Linked DNA regions of Homo sapiens: region 2 is linked to region 1. The links come from fine-mapping of genetic effects on plasma protein levels. Region 1 holds a variant in brackets. A gene starts in the other region. All regions are shown on their reverse strands.

Region 1 (16,561 bases):
TTATCATAGAGCGACGTGGTTTCCTTCCTCTCCCTCCACAAAGTGGTTTTTTGCTTCTACCCATAACTTAGCAGCAGAAATTCACTTGGAACAGGAGTAAAGGTTGGGGGAAGGGGTGGTTGGTGGTTTACAGATTGCCCCTCATTAGCTGCTGATTTTTGCTTTAACTCCTCCCCAAGATGCAATAACAGCTTGTTTTGTGGGGCTGACAGGGATTCCTGTCCTTCTACCAAGGTTTCTAGATTTGCCCTTTGGAAAAAATGTTCTGAGACATGGGTAGATTTTGTGGCCTGTGAGCTACTGGGGGTCTTTCAGGTCTCTTGTTTGCATATGTATGTATATGTGTATATATATATATATATATATATATATATATATATATATATATAACTTTAAGTTCTGGGCTACATGTGCTGAACATGCAGGTTTGTTACATAGATATACATGTGTCATGGTGGTTTGCTGCACCCATCAACCCATCATCTAGGTTTTAAGCCCCACATGCATTAGGTATTTGTCCTAATGCTCTCCCTTCCCTTTCCTCTCACCCCCCAACAGGACCCAGTGTGTGATGTTCCCCTCCCTGTGACCATGTGTTCTCCTTGTTCAACTCCCACTTATGAGCGAGAACATGAGGTGTTTGGTTTTCTGTTCCTGTGTTATTTTGCTGAGGATGATGGCTTCCAGCTTCATCCATGTCCCTGCAAAGGACACGATCTCATTCTTTTTCATGGCTGCATAGTATTCCATGGTGTATATATGCCACATTTTTCTTTATGCAGTCTATCATTGATGGGGATTTGGGTTGGTTCCAACTCTTTGCTATTGTAATTTTTTTTAATGAATACTAGGTGAAGCCTGTAAAAAAAGAGTTGACAAATGTGCTGGGGTCCTGGTAATTGTAAACAAACACGCAAGCTGTGGGTCCACACTCAGCCATTAAAAATTTAACATTTCAGCTGCTTTCTCCCTACCTGCTTTTATAGTAGCCATGTCTTTCTCTAATACTCTACCAATTCTGAAACTGTTCATGGGTCCCTTTTATCCCTGGAGAAGGCTTTTACCCTTTGGACTTTAGTTTACCTAGTTACCTGTGAACTCAGCTCTTTGATAGACCCAAGAAAAGTTATAATTTTATAGATTATCTGACTTTGTTTCATTATTAGGAAAGTAGCAACATTCTCTTGAGAATTTATGCATTGTAAGTGAAAGAAAAATCCAGGAAATCTTATAGAGAATGGCAATATGGTTATAGATGAGAATGTGGAAAAGATGAATTTTGAAATACTTCCTATCATAGTACAAATTGCTACAATGATTTTAGAAAAAAGTATATCTATACACATACACGGAGATCATATATATGGAAATACGTGTGTGTATTTTTCCTGATGACTCTGCATAATAAACATAAATAAATTCTTAAAGATGGAAACAATAAATAAATGTCACTTTAAAATGACATTCGATTAAAGTGACATTTTAAAAAGACAATGTAAAGCTTTTTCCAGGCCAAACTATGGTGATTATCCTATATTAAGATTTTAATTCTTCAAAGAAAGATAGTAAAAAGTTCAATTTCTTTCACTAGGGAAAGAAAATTTTCTTTCATCCCACAACAAATTAGTAAAGAGAGCAATTATTTCTGCCAGAAATAACAAAGATCCCATTAAATTGTCTTAGATAGATCAATTCCTAAAACAGATTATTTATTCAGGTTCTTAAGCTAAATATTATAGAGTCATTAAATTGGGTGTTCAAGGATGTATTTATTGAAATTAAGAGTGGTGTATGTGTAGGTGTTGGTCTGGGTGCAATCTGGGGACAGAAACTACATAGTAATTAAATGAAGTAAGTTTAATATACAGAACTATTGAATAGTGACAGGAGAATAACTATAAAGATGGACTGAGAGCTCAAGAGGGCTTCCTAGGGCTGAGGGAGAATATCCAAAGAAGAATAAACATGAGGAGATAAGGTATTGACAATTGGATAAGAAGTGGTTGAAACCCACCGAATGGCAAAGAAGTCTGAATGGCAAGCTGTGGACACCAGTACTAGAGTGCACTCCTTTTGCAACAGGACGGCCAAAGGAAACAGAGCTTCGAGGAAAGGGATGTAGCTATCTGGGGCTCCCAGATATACTACTGCTACCCAAGTCAAGAGCTAGAGGAAACACACAGTGAATCCTGCACACTCTAGGTACTTTGCATTGGAGAAAACAATTTACTCAGTGGGGAAAAATACATTCTATAGCAACTCAGCAAATGAACTATTCTGATACCTGGATGGCATCAGATGCCTGCAGTGTCTCTACTGTCCTCTCTGCTGAAACAGCATAACATCATGCCAGCTGGCAAAGGAAAGTACTTAAAGGATTCAGATCCATTTTTATAGAGCAGGCTATGCAGAGTGAATTTAGGGCTGAGAGACAGTAAATTGATAACAGGCACAGGGCATCACAAATAAATGATGGAACAGAGTCTGCAAGTGGGGACGGAAGGAGAGCATGGGAGTAATACAATGCTGACTTGGGAACACTCAGACTCTTTGCACTCATTTGGAACATTGGAGTATTAGGCTACGTTTTTTTGTTGTTTGCAGGATATTTCTTTTTCTTAAGAACTTCATATTAATTTTATCTTCTTTCTTTTTCATTAAACAAGACAAGATGAGGAAGAGAAAGATCAGTGTGTGTCAACAAACTTGGGCCTTATTATGCAAGAACTTTCTTAAAAAATGGAGAATGAAAAGAGAGTCCTTAATGGTATGACTCAATATCCGTGTTATTCTCTATTTATGATAGGAAAATACGTGTTGCCTGGGAGTTATCTATGCCATGTGTATCTCCCCCGACACATACACCAAAAACACTAAAATACAGCAACGTTTATACAACAGAAAACGCTATTCTTCAGGCCATGAATCTGTTTGAAGATATTTCAGTTGACATGGGCTCATAAATTGAGGTCTGAAACCACTGAATCTGGTAGCAATTGAGAAATCAATACATGTTTTAAAAGCCAATGGTCACATTTGTTACTAGTGTCCCCAGTCATGGAGACTAGGGTTAAGATACTGACATTCCAAAGATATGGTAAACAAACCAACCCACCACAATGGGTAACTGGCATTTTCTCTTTGAGATCTTTTTCTCTTCTTGAAACAATTAGTTTTCTTCAAAAAAGTAGAAAAGTTGGAATTGTATTAAATTCCAAGAAGAAAATTAGCATTAGCTCTTATAATCTTACCATATAAAAAATCTTGATTAAACTTTGGTATATTTTAAAAATCAGATCGATATAGCTAGGTAGCATTTTTAACTAAATTGGAATTCCACTATACATACATCGTAAAGTTTTTTCCCCTAAGATCATGCATTTTGGAAATAAAGTGATTTCTTATTGGGAGTTCGCATGTGATCAGGATTTATAACTAACGAAGATACTATCCCTCCGATACTATCTTATTATTAGAATTATCAGAATGCCCTTACAAACTGGTATACTGTTGAGTTTGAAATTCCAGAATCTTGGCATGTAACCAGTATATCATTACTAAGCTAGCAATGCCTTGGAACTATCTCTTAAAACACATTGACTTTCAGCAGACTTTAAACAGTTTATAATATGGGATATATTGAAGTTAGAAAAGTAAAAAAGAGGCAAACTTTATGACAAAATGATTGTGGATGACTAATTTTAAATAAGACTTTTCTTTATCTTTTTTCCTGTATTATATAGGAATGGCTGAATTCATTGCTCCTACTACTTTGTTTGTATATATATCCTCATAGTCATCAAGTAAATGATTTTTCTTCACTGCTTACCATGGACCTGGGACGGGTAGATACATTTAATGAATCCAGATTTTCTGTTGTATACACACCTGTCACCAACACGACCCAACAGATAATGAATAAAGTAGCCTCTACTCCCTTCCTGGCAGGTAAGTTTTCTAGTTACTTAAGAAGAATGTCTGGTGTGAATATTTGGTTTATTTGACCGCAGATTTATACATTTAATTTGTATTTCAGTTTGATAATTAAACTTTCTGGAGTACATGAATTGGGAATGTGTCTTCCCTTTATTGGAAGTAACATCTCACCACTCAGTATCTAAGTTAAAACTACATGTATTGCTTGCCAAACAAGGGTTTACCATTTGGGGTGCGCAGTCTCTCAAAAAGAAACTTGTTGATCTGGTATAGGATTTGAGGAAGCATGAAATTATACAGACTGGTGCACATTTAGAGCAGTAGTGTTTAGGGATATGTTGACATGTGACTCTGAAAGCATTGTCACCAAAATGAAATCGTTGCTGTAGTGTTTTCTTGTTCTTATAGACAAAGAAAAACCAGTCTCTTCTTTTCCTAAATTTGATTATAGGAATTTTAACCCTACCTTTTAACACCAAAAACATGTGCTTGCTCTATTTGAATATTCCTTTGAGTATTCTGTATTTCAGATTTTCATCCTTCAGCATTAAGGTACTTAACGAGTTAAGGTTAAGTAGTTGTTAAGTTGAGTTAAGGTTAAGGTTAACTTAACGAGTACCTTAAAGCTGAAGGGTAAAGATCATTTTTATAACAATCATTTTTACAACAATGCTCTGAAATTAGAGGAGATGCAGCCTGGTACAAAGGCAAGAGAACTAGACTTAGAGTCAGAGGACATTTGATTAAAAGTAGTTCTAAGAGTCCACTCAGAACTGCTGTGATACATATGTGTCTGGAGTGCATTTTGAAAGCCATCAGCTTCTCTTAGCCTTATTATTAGCAAACGCAAAATAAGATTAACAATTTATGCAACAATAAACTCTTACAGTTTGAAGAAATAAGACCTTGTGTTCGATAGATCAGTAGGGTGACTAGTTAACAATGATCTATAAAAAATAATACTATATTTTTCATAAATATTTCAGTTGAGCGTAAGAGGCCCAACTCAATCTGTCTTAAGAAAAAGAATCTTTTGTCTAGCTTAAAAGAGCAGAGTATTAATGCAAGGCAGATTAGAGGTTTATCACCAACAGAAGTAAATCTCTGCCCCTCCGATATACAGCTTTGTGTGCTGGCTTCATTCACAGGTTGGTTCTCCCAGAGGCAGAGTTGGTCTGCAGACTCTCCAGATTTAAGCCCTCCCAGATTAGCAACTCCAGTGAAAAGATTACAGATCATTTCTGATAGTTCACAATAACTTCAAGGATTTTATCCACAGGAACAAATAGGTGACTTTGGGTTAGTGTTGATCTTGGTTCACCGAGAACTAATCTCTTTGGATAGGGGATATGCGGTATTTTCATTGCCCACTTGTTGAGTTCCCAGGTCATGAACCACATTGAAACCACAGGATATGTGAGCAGAGGAAGGGAAGTATCCCAAATGGATCATAGTGTGTTTTTATTAGAAGAACTGGATGTCAACAGATAAAAACAACATATGTCCTTTACAACTATAAATGCATACTTCAAAGGGAAATCTGTGGTGATCGCCCTGTCATTCATTCATAGGCTGGGTCGAGGGCTAAGGTAAAGATTAAAATTAGTGCTATAGTGAGTATAAGTTTTAAGTTGTTCATTTGAGATGCTCATGGTAATGGTAACAGGAGGATGGTTTCTAGATCAGCTAGTAAAAATGTAATGGCTACTAAGAATTTTGTAGAGAATGGCAAATGGTGTGTCCTGTTGGATCGGACCCACATTCATATGGGCATGATTTTTCTGTATAAATATTTAGTTGTTATAACCAGAATAACTACAAAAATAATGCTAGCAATGTATTTGTCAATAAAGTTAATAAGAAGTTAGTTATTCTGTTTTGGATTATACCAAACCTAACTGATTGAAAGCCAACTACGCTAATACTAAAAGAAGATTCTCATTAACAAATGGAGGTAGAAGTACAGGAACAGTCAGACTATATCTACAGGATGTCAGTATCAGGCAGCAGCTTCAAATCAGAATTGATGGTTGGATGTAAAGTGAGATTTAATTTGATGAGTTGAATAATTTTTTATGAGTTGAGTTATAATTTTAAAGTGACTTCGAGTTTGTACAACTGTGTGAGTATTCTAAAAACCATGAAATTATTAAAAGGGTGAATATTATGGTATGTGAATTACATCCCAATTTTTAAAGGAATATAAAAATTTGACTTAGAAGGTACTGACTATTCATTTTAAGCAACATAACTCCCACCAAGGGCGTTCTTCTAAGGAGAACCTATGCATCTTGCTCCACCAAGTCACTGGAAGCCTGCATAACCTCTTTTTTTCCTTTCTTTGTCAACTTCCGTCCAAATTCCACTCAAGCTTAAGTAATTATTAATCTTATGCCTGGATTCTGACCCCTTCACTGGATTCTGTATCCAGTAATCCAGTTCATGCACTTGCTATTTGGACTGTCTATGGCCAGAGTTTCCAGAGTATGTTGGACTTTTCCTTCCTGTGAGTTATCCAAAATATGCTTTCCAACGGCGCCTCACCAAGCATCACACCATTAGTTCCACATACATTTTAATGCCTATATTGTGCATCTTACCTACCAACACTGAATCCACTTCTGATTCAAGATTATAATGTGATATGAACTATCCACCTAAGGTCCAGTCTCCTAAACGGCCCTGAGACGTGTCTGCTCTTGCTGTTTCACAGACGTCCATAACAAGACCCAATGTCAGGAACTTGTGCTTCTCGACATTACCTCATTCAAAACCACATGCAATTATAATAATAAATATTCATTAAATGCTACAATATGGTATATTTCTACAAAAACTGTATTCTGTAAAAAGAGAATATTTTGTAATGATATTATTCTATATTCTGTACTCTATTAATATTCTATAATAATAATAATAATGGTTATTAAGTTTATTTTACAAATATAGAAATTGAGTAACAAAGGGTAAGGAATTTGCTCATGATGACATAAGTTTGAGAATAAAATTAATTCTATCAAAATACATACTTCTTGCTCCCTCTACATTCATCTTCAACACTTCCACCCCAATCCAGAACTTTTCTTGTATTTTGTCTCATTTTTCAGTATTAATAAAACATCCATGTGGCCTCAGACAAAATACCTACAGAAAAGAGGGATTCTTTCAGTGATGTCAACATAGTTTCTTAACATGTTTTTAAATTTATCACCTTTTTTAGCTTATTAACCATACCATCAGGATTATTAAAGAAAAATAAATTTGTATAGGTATGTCCACCTGATACAAAACAGTGCCTAATTGCAATTTAAATATCTATCTCTCTATATTTACCATTTCAAATTTATAGGAATGATAACTATTTTTGAACAGTTTAATTGGTATAGTAGGACATTGTATGTGATTGAAATTGGCTCAGTAATCACAACATATGAAAATAAAATAACTAATTTTCATGTATTTCTTCTGATTGCATCTAGATGGAACTTTAGAAATTTCTCTCCCACCCAACATTTTAGTCTAACTTTCTAAAAGTTAATACTTGATAATGTTTTATTTCCATAGAAAACTCTAGTAAAAGCAATTCAACATGACATCCTGAAGTTGTGTCTCCTAGTAATTTACTAACAATAATATTCCTTCTTGTAACAAAAGGTAAAGAGGTCTTGGGACTGCCAGATGAGGAAAGTATTAAAGAATTCACAGCAAATTATCCTGAAGAAATAGTAAGAGTCACCTTTACTAATACATACTCATATCATTTGAAGTTCTTGCTAGGACATGGAATGCCAGCAAAGAAGGAGCACAAGGACCATACAGGTAATTTTATGGCTCTAAAATTTCACTACTCTCTATTTCAATTATGTCATAAGTCATGTGTGGGAATAGAGGTTAGTATGCCAAATTAGAGCATCACTATCTGTCATAATGATGTATGCATGTCCCTCAACATTTAAAAAAAAATTCATTTTTGGGCATAAGAACATATCGATAAGTGGTCATTATATATAGTTATCTACATACATTTACATAGATATATATTTATATATGTAAATGAAATATGTATTCATATGTACACACATAGATATTATATGGAATATATGATTGTTAAAAGAAAACAAGGTAGTTTATGGATAAGATAGAACAAATTTCCCTTCAAATAAGCTCAGTTGTTCAAATTATACTACAAGGCTATAGTAACTAAAACAGCATGATACTGGTATAAAAATAGACATGTACATAAATAGAACAGAATAGAGAAACCAGAATGAAGCCACATACCTACAATCAAATGATATTTGACAAAGTCAACAAAAATATACACTGGGGGAAAAATCCTTTTCAATAAATTGTACTGGGAAAATTGAATAGCCTTATGCAGAACAATAGAACTGGACCCATATCTCTCACCATATACAAAAATTAACTCAAGATGGATTAAAACCTAAACATAGGACCTGAACCTATAAAAATTCAGGAAGAAAAAACTAGGAATAACCTCTTCTGGACATTGGGCTAGGAAAAGAATTTGTGACTTAGTTCTCAAAAGCAAATACAACAAAAACAAAAATAGAAAAACGAGACTTAATTAAACTAAAAAAAACTTCTGCAAAGCAAAAGAAACAATCAACAGAGTAAACAGATGACCTACAGATGGAAAAAAAAATCGCAAACTATGCATTCAACAAAGAACTCAAAGAACTCAACAAGCAAAACAAATAACCCATTTGCCTATTTTTCAGTGCAGTTATTTGAGTTGTTTGAATTCTTCTTTTTTCACAAGAAGACATACAAGCAACCAACCAACGTAAAAAAATGCTCCACATCACTAATTATCAGAAAATGCAAATTAAAACCAGGAGATAACCATTTTACCCTAGTCGGAATGGCTATTAGTAAAAAGTCTAAAAAAATCAGATGTTTGCAAAGATGCGAAGAAAAGATAACACTTATACATCGTTGGTAGAAGTGTAAATTAGTACAACCTTTATGGACAACAGTATGGAGATTTCTCAAAGAAATAAAAACAAACTACCATTTGATCCAGCAACTTCACTACTGGGTATCTACCCAGAGGAAAAAAAATCATTATATTTAAAAAGATACCTGCACTCATATGTTTATTGCAGCACTATTCACAAAAGCAAAGATAGAGAATTAACATAAGTGTCCATCAACAGAGGGCTGGATAAAGAAGATAATATATATATATATATATATATATATATAGGAATACTACTCAGCCATAAATTAAAATATTGATAAATTTGACTAGACATAAATTTTAAGAACGTCCCTTTATCAAAAGAACCATAGAGATAGTGAAAAATAAAGGCAAAAATTGTGATAAAGTGGCCGGGCGTGGTGGCTCATGTCTGTAATCCTAGCACTTTGGGAGGCCAAGCCGGGCAGATTGCCTGAGCTCAAGAGTTCGAGATCAGCCTGGGCAACATGGTGAAACCCCGTCTCTACTGAAACACACACACACACACACACACACACACACAATTAGCCAGGCGTGGCAGCGTCTGCCTGTAGTCCCAGCTACTCAGGAGGCTGAGGCAGGAGAATTGCTTGAACTTGGGAGGCAGAGCTTGCAGTGAGCCGAGATTGCACCACTGTACTCCACTGAATGCCAGCCTGAGTGACAGAGTGAGACTCCATCTCTAAAAAAAAAAAAAAAAAGGTGATAAAGTGTTTATAACAGAAAAATCTAACAAAAAATTAATTCCAGAATATGTAAATATTTACTTTGAATAAATAGGAAAAAGATCAAAAATAGAAAAATAACAAAAGGACATTAATAGGAATTTCATAAAACAACACAGATCAAGAATAAGCACTAGGAGAGGTGTTTTTCCTCATTAGCAACCAGGAAACTGCGTGTTGAAACCACATGTTATATCACTTCATGTTCATAAGATTTGCAAAAATTAGCAAATAGAACAATTCGAAGTATTGACAAGGATATGTAGCAAAGAGAACACCTATCCAACTTTACAAAATTTGTAAATTCCACAAAAATTGAGAAATTTTATCTTAAAGTTGAAGTGCACATAACTTATAACTCATCATCATAGAAATCTTATTAGTGAAACTCTCATACCTGTGTTAAAGATTTGCAGCCTATTCTCCTCTTCTTCCAGAGGACATAGAATAATTACTTTTTGTAGTCATAATAAGATAGCTAGACCCAAGGCATTTAAATGCAGGTATAAGTTCTTCATCTTTTCTCACCTGCTTCTGCAAACTAAGGAGTTGTGTATAATACAGACAGTACAACTCAACCCTCCTACCAAACACCTCTGCTGAATTTGTAGCCTGAGTGAGAAATACACGTTCACTGTGATAAATCACTGAGATTTAGGGGTTATTACTGTAACATATAAGAGACTATCCTGACCAATACAGATATATTTACAAGAAGACATATATACAGATTTTTATAGCAGCAGATTTTTTTTTCTGGTAATCACAAAAAGAAAAAAGGAACTAACCAAATTGTTATCAACAGGAGAATGGATAAATATATTGATTTACATTCCTGCAATGGGATTCCATAACCATAAAAAAGAAGAAAAAATTAAATGAGGCAATTTATTTACATTTCAAAATCATAATATGGAACAAATGAACATAGTTCATAGTAATTATTAGTAGAGTTTAATTTTTTAAATTACATATATAGTTTAGAGATATGTAGTGGCATATATATATACATAACGTTCAGGAAAGCAGTTAGCTAGTTAGAAACTTGGTGCTGGGGAAGTGCACAAGAGATTCTAATTGTATTTGAAATGATGCATTTATTTTGCAAATTTGTAGTGAGTCCATGCGTGTTTATTGTATTTTTATATCATTCGTATATCTGAAATATTTCAAGATGATTTCATGTAATATGCATTTAATTCCTATACTCAATTTTAATTCATCTTATTCAAGGATATCTCTTTAATATAGTTTACTATTAAATGGACTGACAGCTCTTTTTGAATAAATCCTTTTCTTCAAAAGATATTCTGATTGGCATGATTTAAGCGTAGTAAGTAATCTTACTTGAACTTCCATTGGCCTATTATGCCCGTGTTATATCCAGTGTTAGAAAAAGCTTTAGTTTAGTGTCTCTCAATCCATGTTAGGCTCTGTGAACTTTTGAAAAACATTAAAATATGTAGTTTTCACAATACAAATCAGAAAAGAGAAGAGACCAACAAAATTCTTCATCAGCAGAAAAGCACAGGACACGGTATGAGAAAGCTTAGAGTGTTATAATTTAATGTAAAACATTTCCTAAGAGTGCTCCACCTCATGATTCTGCCTGATTCATTTTGAGAATCATTGTTATAATTTATGTTTTCATAAGCTTTGAGTCAAAATAAGAACATTTGGAATTTGGGGTCATTGTAAAGTCCACTGTTTGCTATAATCAGTATTAAAATCATATTTCAATAATATAGATAGTGATGTAATGATAGTTATGATTTGTTTTTTCACAAAGCTCATTGTTATGAAACAAATGAAGATGTTTACTGTGAAGTTTCAGTATTTTGGAAGGAAGGTTTTGTGGCTCTTCAAGCTGCCATTAATGCTGCTATTATAGAAGTGAGTACAAAATGTTCAAAGCAAACTAATGTTTAATGCAAGTTAATGATATTAGAGGCATCAAAAGTTTCATGGAAGAAAATATAAGTGGATAGCCTTGTTATTTCCTTTGCTCACTCTGAAGTTTACTGAAGTTACTATATACCACGGAATGTAGATACAAACAGAAGAAAAAGTATCTCATTCATGGACTCAACTTTGTTGGGAAGCCAGGAATATAAGAAAATTATTAGAACAGAAGTAGACTATTACAGAACTATAAATCAGGTCCTCATAAGTAAATGAGTAAAAACCTCTCAGCCTTAGAATGCCATGGAAGAATGCCTAATTGAAATAACATTCCAGCTTGAAGCTTGAGATGAGGGGTGGCTTACTGAATATATAAATTGAGAAAAGCCATGCCAAGCAAATCATAAAGTAATGTTAGGCAGGGAGGTAATGAAACACACAGTAAATTCTGAGAGTGGTGAGTAACTCAAAATGCCTGGACTCCGAGGTCCCAGCAGGTCAATGACAGGACATAGAAGTGGAAATTTAGGTTAGTATCAAATCCCAATAGGCCAATCATACATCCACAAGAAAATAGATGGTTAAAAGAAAACTGCATGCTGTTCATTAACGTACAAATTTTGCTTATTAATGCCTTTCTTCAGATCACAACAAATCACTCAGTGATGGAGGAGCTGATGTCAGTTACTGGAAAAAATATGAAGATGCATTCCTTCATTGGTCAATCAGGAGTTATAACTGATTTGTACCTTTTTTCCTGCATTATTTCATTTTCCTCATTCATTTACTATGCATCTGTTAATGTCACAAGAGAGAGGAAAAGGATGAAGGCCTTGATGACAATGATGGGTCTTCGGGATTCAGCGTTCTGGTGAGTCAAACGCAGCACAAATAAATAAACGGAGGAACTCAGGAAAACTGGGAATCTTCAATGCATCTTTTTTTTTTTGAAATGGAGTCTCGCTCTGTCGCCCAGGCTGGAGTGCAGTGGCGTGATCTCAGCTCACTGCAAGCTCCGCCTCACAGGTTCACGCCATTCTCCTGCCTCGGCCTCCCAAGTAGCTGGGACTGCAGGTGCCGACCACCATGCCTGGATAATTTTTTGTATTTTCTGTAGAGACGGGGTTTCACCGTGTTAGCCAGGATGGTCTCGATCTCCTGACCTCGTGATCCACCCACCTCGGCCTCCCAAAGTGCTGGGATTACAGGCGCGAGCCACCACGCCCGGCCTCTTCAATGCGTCTTTATTAAAACCTGTTTCTCCACAACCAAGGGGTACAAATGAGAGATACCTACACAGAATAATTTCAGATCATGAACAAATTTCCACTTAGTTAATTTCAGTGGGGAGAAATGCTCTGCAGTGATGGACAAAAAAAAAAAAAAAAAAAAAAAAAGGAAATGTATTTTGCTTCTGGAAATTTTACAGGACTAAGTAGAGAGGCTGGTCATTTAATATATTTAACAATCTCTGACCCAATTTTATCTAAATCTATTTCAGATTCACTGTACTGTGAAGGAACTGCTATAGGAAATAAGATAAAAGGGGACAGAATGTGCTAACATTTAAGAAAATACAACTTCCATTACGAATAATATTGACTTTTTTAGAAAGGAGGAAGATAATCTTTTAAAGAAACATAAAAAGTAAATAAAAAAACTTTGAGAAAACAAATAAGGAGCCAAATGCAGAATTTTACAGAAAAAATAATGTCACAACTATCACACATCAATGTCCATTTAAAAAAATGTGTTGCCATGAATAAGAAAATGCCACTTTTAAACATTCTTTAGTAACAAGGAAAGAAATATAAAAATCCTTTATCCCCATGAATGGTATAAACTGTCATTGGTGTAATGTTTGCCAGGCTGAGGCTGCGTCTTACTGTGCTTCTCTGAGTTAAGGAAGAAGATTGGGGTTAGGTTATTGGTTGATTGTGAAGAAGGTGTAATGAGGAATGGCCATGGCAAGAGAGGCGTAAACAAGATAGACAATGGTGTCTGTGCCAGACAGAGGTGAGATGTGAGCTAGGAGGGGATTGAAAGGGAAAAAGAAGCCGAGGACCAGGAACTCCTTTGAGACTGAGGAACATGCTTGGTGTGCCTGAGGGAATGAGCTGGCAAAACAGGATGGTGAATAGGGGCTGGGTAGTGTGGGTTTAAAATGTCAGAGGTTGGGTGATTCCAAGAATGGACAAGGTTCTGTGTGAGAACTTATGAATAATTGACTGAAAGAGCATGGAGGTGATGTTTACAGGGAGTAGGACATTAAATAACAGAGAGGCTAGGGAGGCAGATGGGCTGTGCATAGGGCAACAAATTAGGAGTCTGGAAGAGTTCCTTCCAGTATTAACATCTTATACATCAATATTGACCTCTTGTTTGAATTAATACTGGAGGGAAACGTAGCAGAGCAGTGAAATCTAAAGACTATAGAGCCAAAACCCCTGAACTTGAAACATAGTTACATAACACCCTTGTTCATTAGGTTCTCTATCAATAAGATGAGGAAAATAATGGTATTCTGAATAGGGCTATTGGGAGAATAAAATGCTTTAATGTTTGCTAAGTTTTCTTCAATGCATATTAATTGCTATGTGTGTGAGTTATTATTGTGTTGGCTTTGCAGCTGTTTTGTTTTTGTTTTTTAAAATTATTATTTCATTATAGTTTTCAAA[G/T]AATATTGTAAAACAAAAGAAAAGAAATTGATGAGGAAAGGAAAGTGAATTATTCTGACATAAAAGAATGGGATTCAAAAAAAATCTTTCTTAACAAAAACAATGAACGGAACTAAAGGCAAGTATGTAGACTTTTCAGTGAACACATCCAGAGAAAGATGACAACAGCTTTTGGGGAAGGAGTGACATGACCAAATTACACATAAGGAAGAATTTCTTGTCTCTGAGGAAGCTTGTGATGGTCCTGAACTTGGAGAGACTCCAGAGAGGAGAGAAGGGTCTGAGGTTCACTGAGGGGCTACCCTGTATTAAGACAGTGCCCTACATAGCCATCATCTTATTTAGTCTTCAGTGGTAGTATTATTCCTGGTGTCCAGAGAAATAAAGGAATAATAGAGGGGTTACAGAGGTTGCCCAAGGTTACAGAGCAAGAATGCAGCAAATAAAATGTTCGATCCAAAATCTATTACACTGGAAACCTAATTCCCCCCCCACCGCCCCCACCCCCCAGAACAATGTGCATGTGTGTGTGAATGTATTTCTGAAATCAATTTTAGGAAAAACAATTCCTAATTCCCAAAGAATATTCCTAATTCTAAAGAATTCTGCCCAAAACTTTTACCTTGTATTTATATATCTTAGAACACCCAATAAATAAATGTTGAAAGAGAGAATGAATGGATGAATAAGTGAATGAAGAGTTATCTTAGAATCCATTTCAGGTCTTCCTTTTCAAGTGAACATAAAATACTAAAATAACATTTTGTTTCCACATTAGGCTCTCCTGGGGTTTGCTCTATGCTGGTTTCATCTTCATTATGGCCCTTTTCTTGGCACTTGTTATAAGATCTACCCAGTTTATCATTTTGTCTGGCTTCATGGTAGTCTTCAGCCTCTTTCTCCTGTATGGATTATCTTTGGTGAGTTAGTGAATTAAATATCTTTCCATCCACCTATAGCCTAAAAATTGTTTGTTTCCGACTGATTACTCTGTATGCCTCCTTTTTTTTCTACCTACTCTGTTTGCATGTGAAAAATCTATAAACAGGTACAATTTGATTTGAGGTGTTTTGTAATGTCAATTTTTAGTGCAATTTGCAGAGCATAGTTTTGTATGTTATATACAAAATAACTATAATATACAACTGTTACATACACAAAATAACTATAATTTTGTATATCTATTTTATTATGCTAGTAATAATGTTAGAGAAACATAAACCAACTAGATCTTCTCTCATTTTAGGTAGCTTTGGCTTTCTTAATGAGCATCTTGGTAAAGAAATCTTTCCTCACCGGCCTGGTCGTGTTCCTCCTCACTGTCTTTTGGGGGTGTCTGGGGTTCACATCACTGTACAGACACCTTCCTGCATCCTTGGAGTGGATTTTAAGCTTGCTTAGTCCCTTTGCCTTCATGCTTGGAATGGCCCAGGTGAGATGCCATCTGAATGTCTATTAATGGCATTTCTGAAACATCTGTCCCTCTGGAATCCATAGGCTGTAATCATTTACAAACTCAGCATTGTAAGGCTTAAAATTCTAGCGAAGGCTGTTGTAAAGTTGCAAAGACAGAACTTTTAAAAGCTTGGAAATTATTTAGCCCAGCAAAATAAGACATTTGGAAAGTGAAAAAAAGAGGATCAACATACAATTATTTAAAGGCAATATAAAGTATTTTCTTAGGCTATTAATTAAATATGGACATGTGGCAAATCTAATTATAAATAACTATTCCAGTTCATGTTTTTACCTAGTAATTGAAGAGAATACGTGATTAAAAACCATTAAATCAAATTAAATTAAAAATTTAAAACATCTGGAAAATTCATTAGTAAATTATGTTTCTATTCATAAAATGTCTTTTCTGTTTATGTGATTCTTATTGAATTCCCCTTGCCTTCCCTCTAACTAAATGGAAATGTCAACCATTAAATATCCATTATTTAGTGTTTAACAAAAGGATTGTTAATTATAAAGAGCTCATTAACTTGAACATCATAGACAAGCCCACTTCTGGTTCTACTTAAACACAGCAGTGCCTTTTGCCCAGAAATTCTCCCTCATGCCGCCAATTTACATGGATCACCACACCTTTTGACTGTGTCCTATTTGGTAAAAGTTCATCTAAGTTCGATCTCAAATGTCATCTCTTCCCATACTTCCCTACTTCCTCCTAATGTTTCAATTTCATTTGGAACATATTTTTATCATAGCAATTACTAAATTGCATTCTAGTTGCTCATATGTCCATGCCTTCCAAGGCATAGATTTGAGAACCATAAAGGAGGCAGTCTCCCTATATAACTCTATTCTCAGTATGAGGCAATAAGTAGTCA
Region 2 (8,000 bases), not on the chromosome of region 1:
TGCTTATCATCTGTCTGTGCTAATGGGTGGATTTTTTCCCCCACCCACCATTCATTTATTAAAAGGTAGTTTTTGAGGGTCTACACTGTATGCAGGTGTTTTAGTTTCAAGTTTCTTCCTTTTGAAGCCTTAAGGTTTTGTTTCCTAGTTCCACATGGACTTTAAACACTAAGCCCATAAAAAGTATCTAGTATTGGCCGGGCATGGTGATTCACACCTGTAATCCCAGCACTTTGGGAGGCCGAGGCTGGTGGATCATTTGGGGTCAGGGGTTCAAGACAAGCCTGGCCAACATGATGAAACCCCGTCTGTACTAAAATACAAAAATTAGCCAGGCGTGGAGGCGGGCGCCTGTAATCCCAGCTACTTGTGAGGCTGAGGCAAGAGAATATCTTGAACCTGGGAGGCAGAGGTTGCAGTGAGCTGAGATCGCCCCACTGCACTCCAGCCTGGGGGACAGAGCAAGCCTCCATCTAAAAAAAAAAAAATACATAGCTACTGTTTAATTTCCTCCGTTACACCTCCCAGGGGATCAGTAATGCCAATTTACATGTTTAACACTCTGCTTTCACTTCATCATTTATCTACAATGGGGGGATTTCTCTCCTTTCTTACATATATAGTTATGTATTTAAAAATTATGTAATATTTATTCATCACTTATAAGCATTTAAGTGGGAGAATTTAAAGTGGGAGAATTTTCAGGTGTTTTAGTCTAACCAAACCTGCCAGAACTAGTATTCCCCACTTCTTGTTTTCCAAGTGGTGGTGGATTTTATTTTGATTTTTAAATTTTTTCATCATCTAAGGGGATTTTGAAAGTAAGAAAATTTAAATACCAGTGCTTAGTTTGCTATCTTGGATCATGTCTTCCATTATAAGTAATTGATCCAATTGGCTGGAGTCACAGGCTTTCTGATAATATTGATGACCCTTAATTTTCTCTGTATTTGTGGAGTTCTGTTATTCTATAATCATCTTTCCCTTGCAACCAAAACCTTTTTCATTCTCCCAATAGTGTGTCCACCAATACCACAATTATATCTTTAAACTTTTTTTCTTTATAGTTTCCTATGTATCTGATGCCAGATAAAAGTGAAAAATTTAATTAATTGAGAAACACTGGAAGAAAATTCTATTTTTAGTTATGCACAAACACTGAAATTGTTAGAAGTTAGCTCTAGAACTGATCCCACCCTTTGCCTTATCCTTGTCTCAGCTCTGGGTTCCTTCACCAGTGGGCCATTGATAGCTTTGCCATATACTTTCTTATGACTAGTTTTCCTGGACAGGTCAATAATGGTGGTTTCTTGTCACAAGGCATGTAAGCTTCCTGTAAGACACAGACAAATCTGCCACTATGGCATTGAGGAAATGACAATGCTAAATTTGAGTGAGATGGTTAAAGAGAGAAGAAAGAAGAAAGGAGGCTAAAGCTGAGACAAAATATGAGGAAGCGGCTCATCTGGGAGAACCCTGAAAAATTTATATAATGAGATTGCAATGAGCTTGGTTACAGGAAGTATGGGATACCTTCTAAGAAGAATCTTGGGGATAAAGGATTATGAGGGAAAAAAATAAGACTTCAATCCAGAGAAGCAGAGCAGGCTGCCGTAAATAAAATTAAAGCAGATTTGTAACTTAGTAAAAACAAAGTCCAGGAACCTAGGTATCTTTCTGGATTCTGGCTCCACTCTTACACCCCACACCTAATCAGTCATGAAGCTCTGCAGATTTTGACTCTGGCAAAATTTATCTCCTCCTCTTCATCAGAACCACCTTAGTTCAAGCCTTCATCTTTTCTATCCTGGACTGTATCAGTGGCCATACAGCTCTTCTATTTATCTCTAGCTTTATTCCTTCTAGTCCACATACACCCTGCTGTCCAAATTCAAAATGATCATGTTCTGATCATGGTTGAAATGCCACCATTAGTCTTGAAATATTTAGGGTTTATGGGTGCTACTCACCTTATGTCTCTTCTCCAGGTTTGGAACTAAGTTGACAAAGTCAGATTGGAGACAAAATATCAGCTTTAATAATGACCATACTAGACTAGATCATGTGACTTATATTTCAGCCAAATGGAGATTTTCTCTACTTTTCTATCAATAGGCTTTGGGACTTACTGTTAGGAGAGTTGTGTTTAGCCAGCAGAGGACCCTGGCTTCTGTGATAACTCATTGAGATAATTACACATAAGAAAATAAGCAGGAAGAGATTACTTTCTGTTTGAGGACAAGTGAAGAGAGAGAACAAGGTCATGAGCTGACATCTTCAACCCAACTCACCAATCAGATGAGCCTCTTCTCCCATGCAGAGGAACAAATAGTAGGAATAAAAGGACAATGGTAAAAGGACCAAAAGAGTTTTATCTAGTGGTGTTCTTTCCTGGGAATGGAGTGGGTGTCTCCTCCACCCTATGAAAATATAAAGATTTTCCCACCTTCCCACTTTTGGGCCTTACCTCTTGTGATGCTCTTCCTCATACCTTTGGATCTGCCATTCTAAAGTGCCTGTGGATACCTGAGCAGCCCGAATGGGTCCCTGACCTCTTACCATGCTCCTGATGCTTTCTAGGCCTGGAACTTCTCCATCTTCCTAAGTCTTATTTGCTTGATTGAAACCTACCTATCTCTCAATATTCATTTCTTCTGGAAGCCTTTACTCCTTAATCTCCACTGTGTCCATTCACATGCTGTACAGAGCTCCACCACAGCAGTGGGACACAAGTATGTTTACTCTTTTCTATTAGTCTTCTGATGCTAGAATGCAATTTCCATCAGGGCAGGGACCATATCTTTTTATCTGGGTATGTCTAGTGCCAAGTGTATTGCCCATCAAGCAGGGGCATTGAATAAAACTCCACTGAGTAACTGAATGCATGGCTTCATGCATGCATGAATTAATGACTGAATGAATAATGATTCTGCTTGGGAATCATATCTTTATGAACTGTGAAAAAGTTATTAGCAGAGTGTGTTAGAAGAGTGAGCAAAAAAAAAAAAAAAAAAGCATGGTAAAACAAGACAGAAAGCCATCAGTGTAATCTCGATCTTGGTTCTTGCTTTTTTCTTCTACTACAACTGATACTCACCAGCCTGCCAGAAAGACACCCACAGAAAGCTGCTGTGGGTGATTCTACTAACGGTTGGTGTAGTTGATGACCCATGGTTCACAGCTCCCCTTGGCCTGAAAAGTCATAACCCATCCACCTTCTGGAAAACCCACACATATACAATTAAAACAGGAAGCAGAAAGCTTTGAACTGAATTTGACCTCTAGACATCCCTCCCCACCTGTTGTTCTCATGGAACCCAGGCAACTTGCCAGGAAGTATTTTCATACACGGAGAGAAGACTGCTCACCACCACAGGTGCTGCTCTGATGTCTTCTATGAGCCTCCCTAAGTCTTTCTGCCTCTCTGCCTCCCCTCAGACACCAAGGCTGGGTTCCCCTCCACCTCCACTGTAGGAATAGTAATACCTTCTTTAGTAAGGATTTACCATAGTTTCCATTGCTACTAAAGGAACTGATAATCTTCATGACGAAGGAAAAAATCGAACTTTGTTAAACTCCAGTCCCCTAGAGATACACTATCTAAAACTTCAACTTACTCTTGGCCTTCTCTGATTCTCTGGGCTTTCACTATCTTCATTATCTTCCATGGAGGTAATGACCACTAGCTTCCAAGCATTTATACCCATTCTGAATTCTCTTTCATGCTATTTGCTCCATGCAGAGCCCTACTGGACTTCTAGATATAATAAATTTAATTGTAAAAAATCTTCTGGGCAGAAGGGCCTGGCTCTGTCTAAATTACATTGGAGAGTGTCTGCATAGACAACATTTGGTCTAGCCAGTTCTGTCCCAGAAGTTCTTCAACAAACAACATCACCTCCATAGAACTCGGAAAGTATCTAGTTACTATCTTGGACAGGAAGTTATTAGGGAAAGCCCCACTCAACAAAGACATATCATGCTGCTCAAGGTAATTATTGTAATTATTAAAACTGCTACTACCACTACTGCCATAACAATGATGATGACCATGACTATGACTACTTCTACTGCCATTTATGTAGCAATTATTATGACAAGTAATTTATATATATTATGACATTTAATTCTCTCATAGTGACCTTGGAACCCCAAGCTCAAAAGATTATATCTAGGGATCTTGGAAGTTAGCCTGTTTCATTTTCTTATTTTCCCACTCTAACTGTCCTAGTAATCAAATTCATCAAGCAGGAAGTGTGATTTGTTTTATTCTGACATATTTTATGAAGACTCTATTTGTCTCTGTCTCAGTTCTGGCATGCCCCAACTTGGCACTGTATTTTGTATTCCATTCAAGACATTGAACACGGTTCACAGAGATGACTCTTGCTCTGCATCTGGCAAAATAGGCTTCAGTATGTTACCACCTGTGGAATCTCCATGTTAAGGGTTTACCTGGTTGATCCAAGAGGCATTTATATGTATGTCTAATGCTGGTTCTTTCTGATACCTGTGACTCCATCCTGTTGGTGGCAAAATATCCTTGCACAAAAAGTATTATCTCTCACTTTGATCAAACCTACAAACATAATTTTATTTCTGCCACTATTGCCTTAATTTTTAAGTTACTTTCCCCACCCCCCACCAAGTGTCTATTAAGCCTCTTAATCTCTGGTCACAGTGCCTACTGTGCATTCAAGTTTAGCTACGCTTCCAGGATATGCCTATTCACTTGTAAATTACTGCCGTCTGTCAAATACAGAGTAGCACCCACATGAAACATGTTAGCCATCTTAGAGGATTTGTTGCCACCTCTGTGGCCCACACACCTCATTACTGCTGCTTTCCACCTGCACCTTTTATACCAACTGTGAATTTTACCTCATATCATTTGGTAACACCTTAAGAAATATTGATTCTTAACTGAAGAGGCCACATTTCCATAGAGGGTATATAGAAATCAGTGAAGGGATATGGATTATTTTGAAAAATCTCCTTGATGTCTATGAAAAACTTGTACCTACCATCAATTTACCATCAACTTTTTCATGATCCTATTTGTACTCCTTTCCTTAATTCCCTCCCATCCACAAAATTTCTATAGCTTCCAGGTTGGTCAGAATGGGAAGGAATTATAGGCCACCTAGAAACCCATTCAGTAGGCAAGATTTGATGATCAGTGACTAGCTTTGGTCCTGGGAAAGAGTAACTTACACTTTCAAACACATACAAACCGTTTGCCTATGCAGAAAGTTAAAGTAGTATTGTTTTCAACACTTTAAGATGAGAGAGGCCATAAAACCTAGTTTCTTATAATGAATCTTTAAAAAGTACGTAAATAGCATATGTTTATTGTAAGAATACTAGAATACACAGATAAGCAAAATAAGGAAAATAAAAATCAGCTTTAATTAGATTTTTTGGATATAATTACAGTAACTCTGTGGTGCGAATTGTCTCAGACACTTTTTATTGGAGAGCAGGGGATAATGTGCAGCAGATAAAGTGCACTCTGCAGCCACTTTTTTCTTTTCTTTTCTTTTCTTTTTTTTTTTTGAGACGGAGTCTTGCTCTGTCACCCAAGCTGGAGTGCAGTGGCACGATCTCGGCTCACTGCAAGCTCTGCCTCCCGGGTTTGTACCATTCTCCTGCCTCAGCCTCCCAAACAGCTGGGACTACAGGCACCTGCCACCACGCCCGGCTAATTTTTTGTATTTTTAGTTGAGATGGGGTTTCACCGTGTTAGCCAGGATGGTCTTGATCTCCTGACCTCGTGATCCGCCCGCCTCAGCCTCCCAAAGTGCTGAGATTACAGGCGTGAGCCACCGCACCCAGCCCACTTTTTTCTTAATCATATATCCTAGACATCTTATCTTGCTATTAAATATTATTCCACAGAATTATTTTAATGGCTGTTTGGTTTTCCACAGCATTTGACACATAACTTATTTTTAACACACATCTCTCCTTGTGATATATTTTTAGTATTTTCTTTTTACATTATTATAAGCAAGGCTTTAATGACCATCACATATAAATATTAGCCTTTCTCAAAGTAAAACTATGATAATAGTGAGAATAAAATGTTAAGTATCCAATTGTTAAAAATTCAATGTTAAGTATTCAGGTAAATGTTAAGTACCTGAACAGGTAACATTGAGTCTATGAATATTTTCAGTCAGTCCCTCATTTATAAGCACCTGTGATTTTTTGGTTTAGAGTTTCATCCTGCATAAGGTTCACTGATGAGACAACATCTACTGGGACTACATCTAATCAAAGTGAGCATGATAATAGGTGTTCACATAACACGCGCTTTGCTTTGTGTGAGATAACTGTATTAGGATCAGCCTGGGGTACAAAAAGCAATGCAGATTAGAAATAGGCAATGTTGTGATTACAGATTAGAAAGATGGCAATGTTTTCAGCAATATAGTGCAAGTGTTTTGAAGTTTAGTAAAATCTCATTCTAGAAAGTCATCGAATGACTACGAAAAATTTTACTTAAGAAATATGAGCTATTGAAACAATGGCCTTATTATTTTATGAACCTTGAGAAGCAATATATCAAGATAATAGGGCACAATGTTTAAGAGCCAGACTGTGACACTGGGCTGCCTGGGTTTGAATCCCAGATCTGTTACTACTAGAAATTGATTAAGCTGATCTTGGTCATTTTACTGGCTGCTATCATCTGAATGTTTGTGTCCTGGCAAAATTCTTATGTTGATACTTAATCCTCAATGCAATAGTAATAAAAGGTACCCACCTTTTATTACATGACCTTTTAGGGGTCATGAGTGTGGAACTCTTATGAAAAGGATTAGTCTCCTTGTAAAAGAGGCTTGAGGGAGCTTGTTTGCTCCTTCCATCATGTGAAGACACATAGAGGACACCATCTATGAGAAACAGGCCCTCATCAGACACTGAATCTACTGGTGCCTTGATCTTAAACTTCCCAGCCTCTTGAACTATGAGTGATAAATTTATGTTGTTTATAAATTTCTCAGTCTAAGGTATTCTTTATAGCAGCCCCAATGGACTAAGACACTTACCTTTACTAGTGCCTCAATTTCCTTATTCATGTGAAAGGGGATAGTGCCAATTCAGAAACTTGCTGAAGGTAATAAATAACTCTGTAAGCATGAGGCACTTAGAACTGTGTCTGACTCATTGCAACCCATATGTAAATGCTAGGTATCATAATGAGGGTCAAGTTACAAAATTTCTCTGGCATTGAGAGGATCAGCTATAATTGTTTTAGCCCTTCCAGGACAAAGATAATGGTTAAACATAGTGGCACTATTCTACTTCCTTTTTTGCTAATTATACAAAACCTATTCTGAAAACCACATTTCATCGCCTGCTCAGAGTCTCCAGTTGGTGACCAAGAGTACATCTCTTTTCAAATAGCTGGATTAGGTCCTCATGCTGCTGTGGTCATTGCTGGTCATCTTTGGTGAGTTCAATAATTTGACTGAGAAGTGAGGTGGCAGCTGAATGAGGTCTACTGCTCCCAAAAGGTTGGAGGTTTTATTGGAGCCCAGGGACTGGTGGGGATGCTCAGGTCCTGCCTGCAGCTTGGGCTTCAAAGGCAGATGCAAAGAAGTAGGCTGAGGACAGTGAATTTGCAGCACATCCATTAAGCATTAAGCACAATGCTTAATGTTCAAGGTGGACCACTTTTCCATTTGCTGGTCATGAATTGCTATTTTGATATCTTAGATCTCATTGAGTAATATAATGTTCTCATAGTAAAATGTTCATAATATTAGCATTTAGCAATGCCCTTCTCCTCCATGAACACCGATTATTCAATTGTTATCTATAAGATTTGGGTTCAGCAGATGCATTGAGACCCTTTGCTAATATTCCTCTGTTTAATCGTGGACAATGAGGGAGATGACAGCTGCTGCTAGAAAATAAGATTCCTGGGTGAGTGCAGTGGCTCATACCTGTAATCCTAGCACTTTGGGAGTCCAAGGCTGGTGGATCACTTG

Alleles and levels. Positions count from the first base shown, and alleles are read on the strand shown. Strength reflects both the effect of a copy and how common the allele is.
As copies of G replace T in region 1, the plasma level of the protein whose gene starts at base 7,370 in region 2 goes up (weak association).

The links. PIP is the posterior inclusion probability: the model's chance that the variant is causal. The UK Biobank Pharma Proteomics Project read protein levels with antibody pairs (Olink). The fine-mapping took linkage between variants from a reference panel, not from the people measured, so its PIPs are less certain.
Region 2: FCRL2 starts here. The variant in region 1 is fine-mapped to the plasma level of the FCRL2 protein (UK Biobank, PIP 0.98).

The regions. Positions count from the first base shown.
Region 1 is chr17:68,928,145-68,944,705 of GRCh38, reverse strand. It overlaps ABCA8 (ATP binding cassette subfamily A member 8), which reads left to right. Exons shown (of 40, transcript NM_001288985.2): 3 at 2,667-2,767; 4 at 3,744-3,948; 5 at 7,591-7,755; 6 at 11,435-11,538; 7 at 12,192-12,418; 8 at 15,004-15,145; 9 at 15,472-15,657. The coding sequence starts at 2,672. Among named protein-coding and RNA genes, the nearest start is that of ABCA8, 19 kb to the left of the region's middle. The variant G/T (reference allele first, on the strand shown) is at 14,226.
Region 2 is chr1:157,776,502-157,784,501 of GRCh38, reverse strand. It overlaps FCRL2 (Fc receptor like 2), which reads left to right and starts at 7,370. Exons shown (of 12, transcript NM_030764.4): 1 at 7,370-7,459. The coding sequence starts at 7,429. RefSeq lists an enhancer at 3,389-3,448.